Homo sapiens: one gene and its partner. The gene in region 1 interacts genetically with each later gene. Each region holds a gene or a part of one and is shown in the gene's direction. Other genes may lie near its edges.

Evidence for each region. A genetic interaction does not mean that the proteins touch.
Region 2: of CALM1 (region 1) and ADD1, changing one suppresses a phenotype caused by changing the other (phenotypic suppression), as found in Homo sapiens cells (one study listed by BioGRID).

Annotation. Positions count from the first base shown.
Region 1 is NC_000014.9:90,395,219-90,398,818, forward strand, and holds the start of CALM1 (calmodulin-1), read left to right. Parts: upstream 1-1,810; 5' UTR 1,811-2,012; coding exon 2,013-2,015; intron 2,016-2,948; exon of another isoform or gene 2,949-3,600. UniProt on the Homo sapiens protein: Calmodulin acts as part of a calcium signal transduction pathway by mediating the control of a large number of enzymes, ion channels, aquaporins and other proteins through calcium-binding. Calcium-binding is required for the activation of calmodulin.
Region 2 is NC_000004.12:2,902,755-2,906,575, forward strand, and holds part of ADD1 (alpha-adducin), read left to right. Parts: intron 1-2,009; coding exon 2,010-2,354; intron 2,355-3,821. UniProt on the Homo sapiens protein: Membrane-cytoskeleton-associated protein that promotes the assembly of the spectrin-actin network. Binds to calmodulin.

The DNA of each region.
Region 1 (3,600 bases):
CGCGCCCGGCCAAGATGCAGTTTTAATAAGGAGTTTGGCCATTTAGGCTTGTAACTGACTGGATTATTGCATATTCTTTAAAATTAATTTGTATTAGTCCCTTTTCTTCTATTTCCTTATCTCCAACTCTCGCATTAGTATGCACGCTTTATTCCTACTCAGGTTTTCCCCTATGAGCCCAGGAGTATTATTATTATTTTTTTGCAGGGATTAGGATCAGGTTTGTGAAGTGAATAGTGTCTTTCTAATCTGCAGAGGGAAGGCAGCATCCCCTGGCTTGCTGCTGCAGCCTCTCTTTAAATTAAACAGCAGGTTCACTCTTTCTGCGGCATTCCAGAAGGAACATCAGTAGGAACAGCTCCACAGATGCTGACGTCTTGTCTAAGGTTATCCCAAGAAGTCCTGTGGCATTTGCAATGTGCCTGTACATTTTTCCTTTTTTAAAAAACATATTCCTGCAGACTTTGTTGAAAGCAGAAACAAACACAAGCAAGCAAAGCCCTTTCTAGCACAGCATGTTAATCACACACTTTGCCATATTCTGTGAAACAGTAAGCAAATGATAACCTCCAACTGTTGCCCGGGCCCTGTAAAACAGAAGATCAAATTCTGTGTTCTGCCTTGGCAAGAAAAGAAACTGCAGCATTTTGTCTAGATTTTTACAAGTCCTGGGGTTCACATTACTGGCTGAAATTGTTCTTTCTCTACTTTACAGAAAAATGGAAAACACTAGTAAACTTAAAGATTTAAATATTATTTTAAAAGGAATATAATAAAAAATGGAAAACACTAGTATATTTAAAGATTTAAATAGTCTTTTAAAAGGAATATAATCAAAACTGTAGTTTAAAATACAATCTAGCTCCATAAGAGAGGCAATTGGCTGTGTGTTCCACTTGTAATGCAGAGGATTTGAAGCATCTATTTTTTCCCTTGTTTCTATGGATTTATGAATAAAGACTCTGACCCTTCTCAGGATCAGGAAAATTACGAAAAATTTAAAGCCTGGGTTTAAGGTCTGTAGAAGCTGCACAGGTACACTAATTTTAGTAAGACGGGCGCCAGGAAAAAGAACAAAATAGTAGGGGAGAAATATTCAGGCATCCTAAAAAATATTCAGTGGAAACGTAAAAACATTAAAGACTGATTAAACATCGCAGCATGACACAGATTTAGCAACTGAGCATAAATAATTTGACTCGGATACTGCTCCAAAATCCGAAGAGGACCAATTTCTTCCAGGAGGACAACTACCTCGTCCTCTGCAGACCCCTCTCCTCGGCAGCTGAAGGAGTGTGGCCAATCTGCCTCCACCTCCCCGCGGACCCCCTACTCTCAGGACCTCCTGCAGCACCCCAAACTGGAAGTGGCCGCTGCAGACCCAAGGACGAGGGGCACGCGGGAGCCGGCAGCCCTAGTGGAGCGGTTGGAGATGTTGAGGTGGGAGGGTCACCCAGGTGGGGTGAGGCTGGGGTAGGTAGCGGAGTGAACGGCTTCCGAAGCTCTGGGCCGCCCCCAGGTTGGACTAAGCAGGCGCTCTGTCTTCGCCCCCGCCCAGGGTGGGCGTCTCCTGAGGACTCCCCGCCACACCTGACCCGAGACCGCGCGCCCAGCCTAGAACGCTTCCCCGACCCAGCGTAGGGCCGCCGCGACTGGCGCGCAGGGGGCGGCGGGAGGCCTGGCGAACCCGGGGGCGGGACCAGGCGGGCAAGGCCCGGCTGCCGCAGCGCCGCTCTGCGCGAGGCGGCTCCGCCGCGGCGGAGGGATACGGCGCACCATATATATATCGCGGGGCGCAGACTCGCGCTCCGGCAGTGGTGCTGGGAGTGTCGTGGACGCCGTGCCGTTACTCGTAGTCAGGCGGCGGCGCAGGCGGCGGCGGCGGCATAGCGCACAGCGCGCCTTAGCAGCAGCAGCAGCAGCAGCGGCATCGGAGGTACCCCCGCCGTCGCAGCCCCCGCGCTGGTGCAGCCACCCTCGCTCCCTCTGCTCTTCCTCCCTTCGCTCGCACCATGGTAGGTCGGGAGTGGCAAATGCCGGCGTAGCAGCTGCCCGAGATTTCTTCCCAGATTTCTAGTTGTTTTGTTTGTTTTTTGTTTGTTTTTGGTTCTTGGAGGTTTTTCTTTTCTGAGTGTTACGCAGCAGCTGCGCTTAAAGGAGGTTGCATTTTGGATTTGCATCTCGGCGACCTCTGCCAGGGAGCTTCATTTATTGGTTCCCCTTGGAGCTGGACTTGGTCGTAGGCCGTCCACGGGCAGGGGCTCCGGCCGCAACTGCAGCGGGGGTTTCTGCATCCAATCCCCCTGCCCCCCGCCCAGCCCCGCACCCACTGCATCCACTAGCGCCGCACCCGGGCTGCCTGCAGCGCAGCGTTTCGGCCTGGGAGCCGGGCGGGGCCGGGCACTAGACCCCCCCCCCCGGCCCGCCCCTCCCCACCCCGCTTCTCCGCCGGCGCGAAGGTGGCAGGTCGGGCGGGCAGTGGAGAATGAATGGGCTGGAGCTGGCCGGTGGCGCACATTGTTCCGGCCGGGTGTTGAGGGGCGCAGTCAGCGCCCGCCACCTCCCCACTTTGGCCGGCCCTGCTGGGCGCCCTCCCTCGGTCGCTCTCCCCTCCTTCTTCCCGGGGGGCGCGGCGCGGGCGTGGGCTGGGAAGGAAGGAGCCGGGGAAGGGTGGGGTTGGGGGCAGGAAGGCGAGGGGTTGGGGGCGGAGAGGGCGGAAGCGGCGGCCGGGCCGCCCTGCGCCCGGGCGGGGCCCTGCGGTGTGGCCGTGGCTTGTTCCTGCCGCTTTCGCACCCTGCGGCCCCCCACCCAGTGCAGCAGTGCGGGCGGGCGTGAGCCTCGGTGCACCAGGAGGCACTTCCCGCGGGAGGCGCTGGGCTCGCGCTAATTGGGGCGGGGGGGGGGGGCGGCGGGGGAGGAGGGAACTGGCGCGCGGCTTGGTTTCCATTAGAGACGCAAAGTTTCTGCTCCGGGAGGAGGCGGCGGCGCCGCGGGCTCGTCGCCTGGGGGAGCAGAAGCGGGTGGGAGGTGCGGGTGGCCTTGGCCTCAGCCCTGGTGCGCGGGGGCCGGGGGTGGTGACCCTCCTGGCCGAGGAGGGGCGGCGTCCAGACGCCCGCTCGGGGGCCGCCTTCCCCCCCACGCCTGCCCCCGGGCACGCGCCCTGCCCGGTCCCTCGCCCCGCGCCACTTCCAGTCCGCAGAGAGATGCCCTCCACGTTTCTGCTTTCTCTGCAGCCTCTAGATTGCCAGATGCGACTGTGCGCCTCGCTGGGTGTGTTTTCCACAGCCCCTTCCTCCTCGGCGTGCAGGGCTGACATCACCGACTGCGTTTCTGGTTTGGCGGGTGGGGAGATGGTTCCCCGCAGGGTTCTGGTACACCTTTGCCCCCAGGGCTAGCGCCATTTGGGGGAGGAGGTTTTCGTTGTCGAGAAAGTTGGATGCTCCTGGTAACCCCTCTAACAAGAGAGTTCTGTAGCGAGGTGGGACTGTTCTCCCCATAAGGTGACAGTTTCTCTTGCGAGGTGTGGCAGCGCTTCCTGTTGTACAAGACAGATGTTGCCTTGGCGTTACGTAAATCATCGTGTCTCCGTCATTTAAAGAA
Region 2 (3,821 bases), on another chromosome or scaffold:
GGTGGCTCATATCTATAATCCCAGCACTTTGGGAGGCTGAGGCAGGTGGGTCATGAGGTCAGGAGATTGAGACCGTCCTGGCTAATACAGTGAAACTCCGTCTCTACTAAAAATGCAAAAAATTAGCCGGGTGTGGTGGCACGTGCCTGTGGTCCCAGCTATTCAGGAGGCTGAGGCAGGAGAATAGTGTGAACCTGGGAGGCGGAGGTTGCAGTGAGCCAAGATGGCGCCACTGCACTCCAGCCTGGGCAATGGAGTGAGACTCTGTCTCAAAAAAAAAAAATTAAATTAAAAAAATAAAAAAAATATTGAAAGAGTGATTAGTAATGAAGATGGCCCCCAAAAAAGAGCAGTACCCAGAGGGGAGAGAGAATTCTGAATTGAGAGGACTGTTTCTAGAGTACCACAGCCAGCAGGGCACAGGCCACTGAAGTGTCTTGTATGTCTGACCCTGTGCAGTCCCTCCAAGTCCTGATTCTCTTGTGATGTATTGTGAAGGTGCTGTGAGTGACTTGGTTCAGGTGCGAATCTGTTAGGTTGTTGAGCAGACAGCTCTTCAGCATCCCCCGTATTACCTCTCTGTGCTGGGCAACAAATCACTACAGGCCTGGTGGCTTCGAACAGCAGCCATTTATTTCCTAGCTTCTGTGGGGCAGGAGTCCAGGCACAGCGAACTCAACCTAGGGTCTCATAAAGGCTGCATTCAGGGTGTTGGCTAGGGCTGGGTTCTCATCAGGAGACTTGACTCAGAGGATCCACATCCAGGCTCTTCTAGACTGGGGACAGAATTCCTTTTCTTAGGGCTGAAGCATTCTTGGCAGCTTTACTTCTTCAGAGCCAGCAGTAGAGACAGAGACTCTTATAAGATAGGTGCTAAACTCTTCTGTGATACAGCCCATCATCACCTTTTGTGAATTCCGCTACTTAGAAGCAAGTCAGAGATCTCACCTGTGCTCAAGGTGGGAGGGGATTACAGGAGCTGGGGGCCTGGGGCCACTGTGAAGTCTGTCTGTCACACTTACCAAGTGTGGCCAGGAGAGATGCAGAGGACACCGTCCATGCCCTTAGAGATGCTGTCTGTGGGAGGACTCTGCAGATGAGTTGGTCCAGTAGAGGCATGAAGTAAGTGGGGCTGTCTTTTACCACAGAGCACATGGTCATGAGGCAGAGCTGGAGGTGAATTTGAATGTTGTTGTATTCAGACGTAAAGTAATTTTGCTGAGAACCAGTTGTCATGAGGTATACTTACTTACCTTACTTACCTAAAGATTATCACAGTATTTAAACTGTAACTTAAGAGGTAAAAGTCTATTAAGTATGTTGATGAATATAACCTGCACAGTGGCTGGCAGCAAGTAAACCCTGTTTGGGTGTTCAACTTTAATTTTTTGTTGAAATATGTAAGCAGGAGAGTGCACCTACCGCAAGTGTTCAGTTTGTTCATTTTTAAAAACTGAACCCCCTGTATAACCAGCAGTCAATAAGAGCAACGGTAGCAGCACCTCAGAACACCCCCAGCACCTCCTTCAGTTCACTTGTCCCATCCCAGGGGTGACAACTGTCCTGTCTCCCAGGACAACCAAAACAAAGGTTGTTTTGCATCTTCTGCACTTTTAATGAATGGTATTACATGGTGTATGTTCTTTGCAGGTTGGTCTCTTTCACTCAGCGTTGCCTTCAGGAGAGTCATCCACGTGGTTGGTTTAGAGCACATTGTGTCACTATAAGCCTTCTTATGAAGACACTAGACTATCCATCTCCTATATGGATGGACTTTTGGGTTGTTTCCAATTGTGGTTTACGAGGAGTAGGGTTGCTGTCCACATTTTAGTACCTGGTTTTTGGTGAACACATTTGCTTCTGTGGGGTGTAAAATTAGGAGTGGAATTACTGAGTCATAGGGTATGCATGTGTTCAACTTTTGTGGATGTTTCCACATGATTTTCCAAAGTGAAACCCTGTTTTGAGATCTGGAATATTGACTGTCTTTCACTCTCCTTGGACCCTAGGGCTACAGAACTGGCTACCCTTATCGATACCCTGCTCTGAGAGAGAAGTCTAAAAAATACAGCGATGTGGAGGTTCCTGCTAGTGTCACAGGTTACTCCTTTGCTAGTGACGGTGATTCGGGCACTTGCTCCCCACTCAGACACAGTTTTCAGAAGCAGCAGCGGGAGAAGACAAGATGGCTGAACTCTGGCCGGGGCGACGAAGCTTCCGAGGAAGGGCAGAATGGAAGCAGTCCCAAGTCGAAGACTAAGGTGTGGACGAACATTACACACGATCACGTGAAACCCTTGCTGCAGTCTCTCTCGTCCGGTGTCTGCGTGCCAAGCTGTATTACCAACTGCTTGGTCTGTGCCTACCTTACTGTTCATAGTTAGATGACGTAGAGCAAGTTGGGTAGCTGGGGCTTCGGAGGCTTTGGGAATCCAGCCTTTCTGACCCAGGTGTAAAGCGAACCTTCCTTATTCACTTTCTTGTAGTCTGAACCTAAGTCCACTGAATGCATTACTAAAATTCGGATAATACTATCTGCTTGAAACTGCTTAAGATGTAATGTAACTCCGCAGTAGTTCCAGTATATCTCCGTATATAGCAAAAATATACAATAATTTACATGTATTAACCTACAAATAGGAGCTCTTCTTATTTAATTCAAATTATATTCAGGGACTCTTAATACTTCATGCACAAAAAGACACTTCAGTCCTAAACCTGTATTTTAGTGTTGTGAACTCCAGTGGTTTCAAGTCACTAAAGTTTCTTAAGTCTTCAGTGTTTTCTTAAGCAGTTTTCCCTTGTGGCTCCCTGGCGTGTTCTCTGCTGACTCTTGTCCCCTGCCCTTAGTGTTATTCCCCTGCTTTCTATCCCAAAGCCTCCGAATGCACACCCCCAGCTGCCCTCTGCATGGACTGTTGCATGTGAGTAGACGGCCATAGTGGCGAGTCACCTTCTGACTCCTGTTGGGTGCGGCATGACCCAAGTGCAGCGCAGGCCATCTGCAGGCACCAGCGACAGACGCTGCAAGGGGTGCTTCGTTTCAGCGTTAATGCCGCTCAAGTTATCGTTTGTCCTGAGAGGTGCTCCCATGTCGTGGTGCTGAGACCTCCTCTGAAGATGGGTCTTTATTCCTCCTGTAACCTACCTCTAACAGTCCACCCAGCTCTGCTTTAAACTGTATGTAGAAGAGGCCCATTTCCAGAAGCCCCTGGAATGGAGGAGACAGGGGCTGAAGCAGACTCATCTGTGCATGACTAGTTCATTAGGAGTTCAGTTGAAATTAGATTAGATGCTCCTAAAACCATGGGCAACCAAATACATAAAGTGGGGCTTTCTTTTCCCCTTGTAACAGTGTTTTACTTTATAGATTTATTTAAAGAAAAAAAGTTTTATCTTCCCCAGGTGGTCCTGGTGTTTTCCTGACGCAGTTGGTGAGAAGCCTCCGTGCTCCTGAGCGGCCGCGTCACCTGGGCAGGGACCCTGTGTGGCCATGGGGCTCTGAGCATGGGAGTGCGTCTCTCCTCTTCTTTCCTGCCCTCCTTGTCTTCTTTCCCCCCTTCTTCCTGTCTCCCCTTTTCTTTCATTTGTTTATTTTTTACTTGTTTCACTTGTTAAAGGAAGTGGGCGTTATAAAACAAAAAAAAAAAACCCCAAAACACCTTTCTGCGGCTGATGTGAAGCACAGTGCTGAATTGCCATGAGGAAGTTTTCCAAAGCGTTTAGGCAGCAGCGCGAGCTTTATTTACCATTAGCTTGCAAAACAACTAAGTCACTTTAGGCCTAGTAGTCAATGTGTACATCCAAGGGGAGGCCTTGCT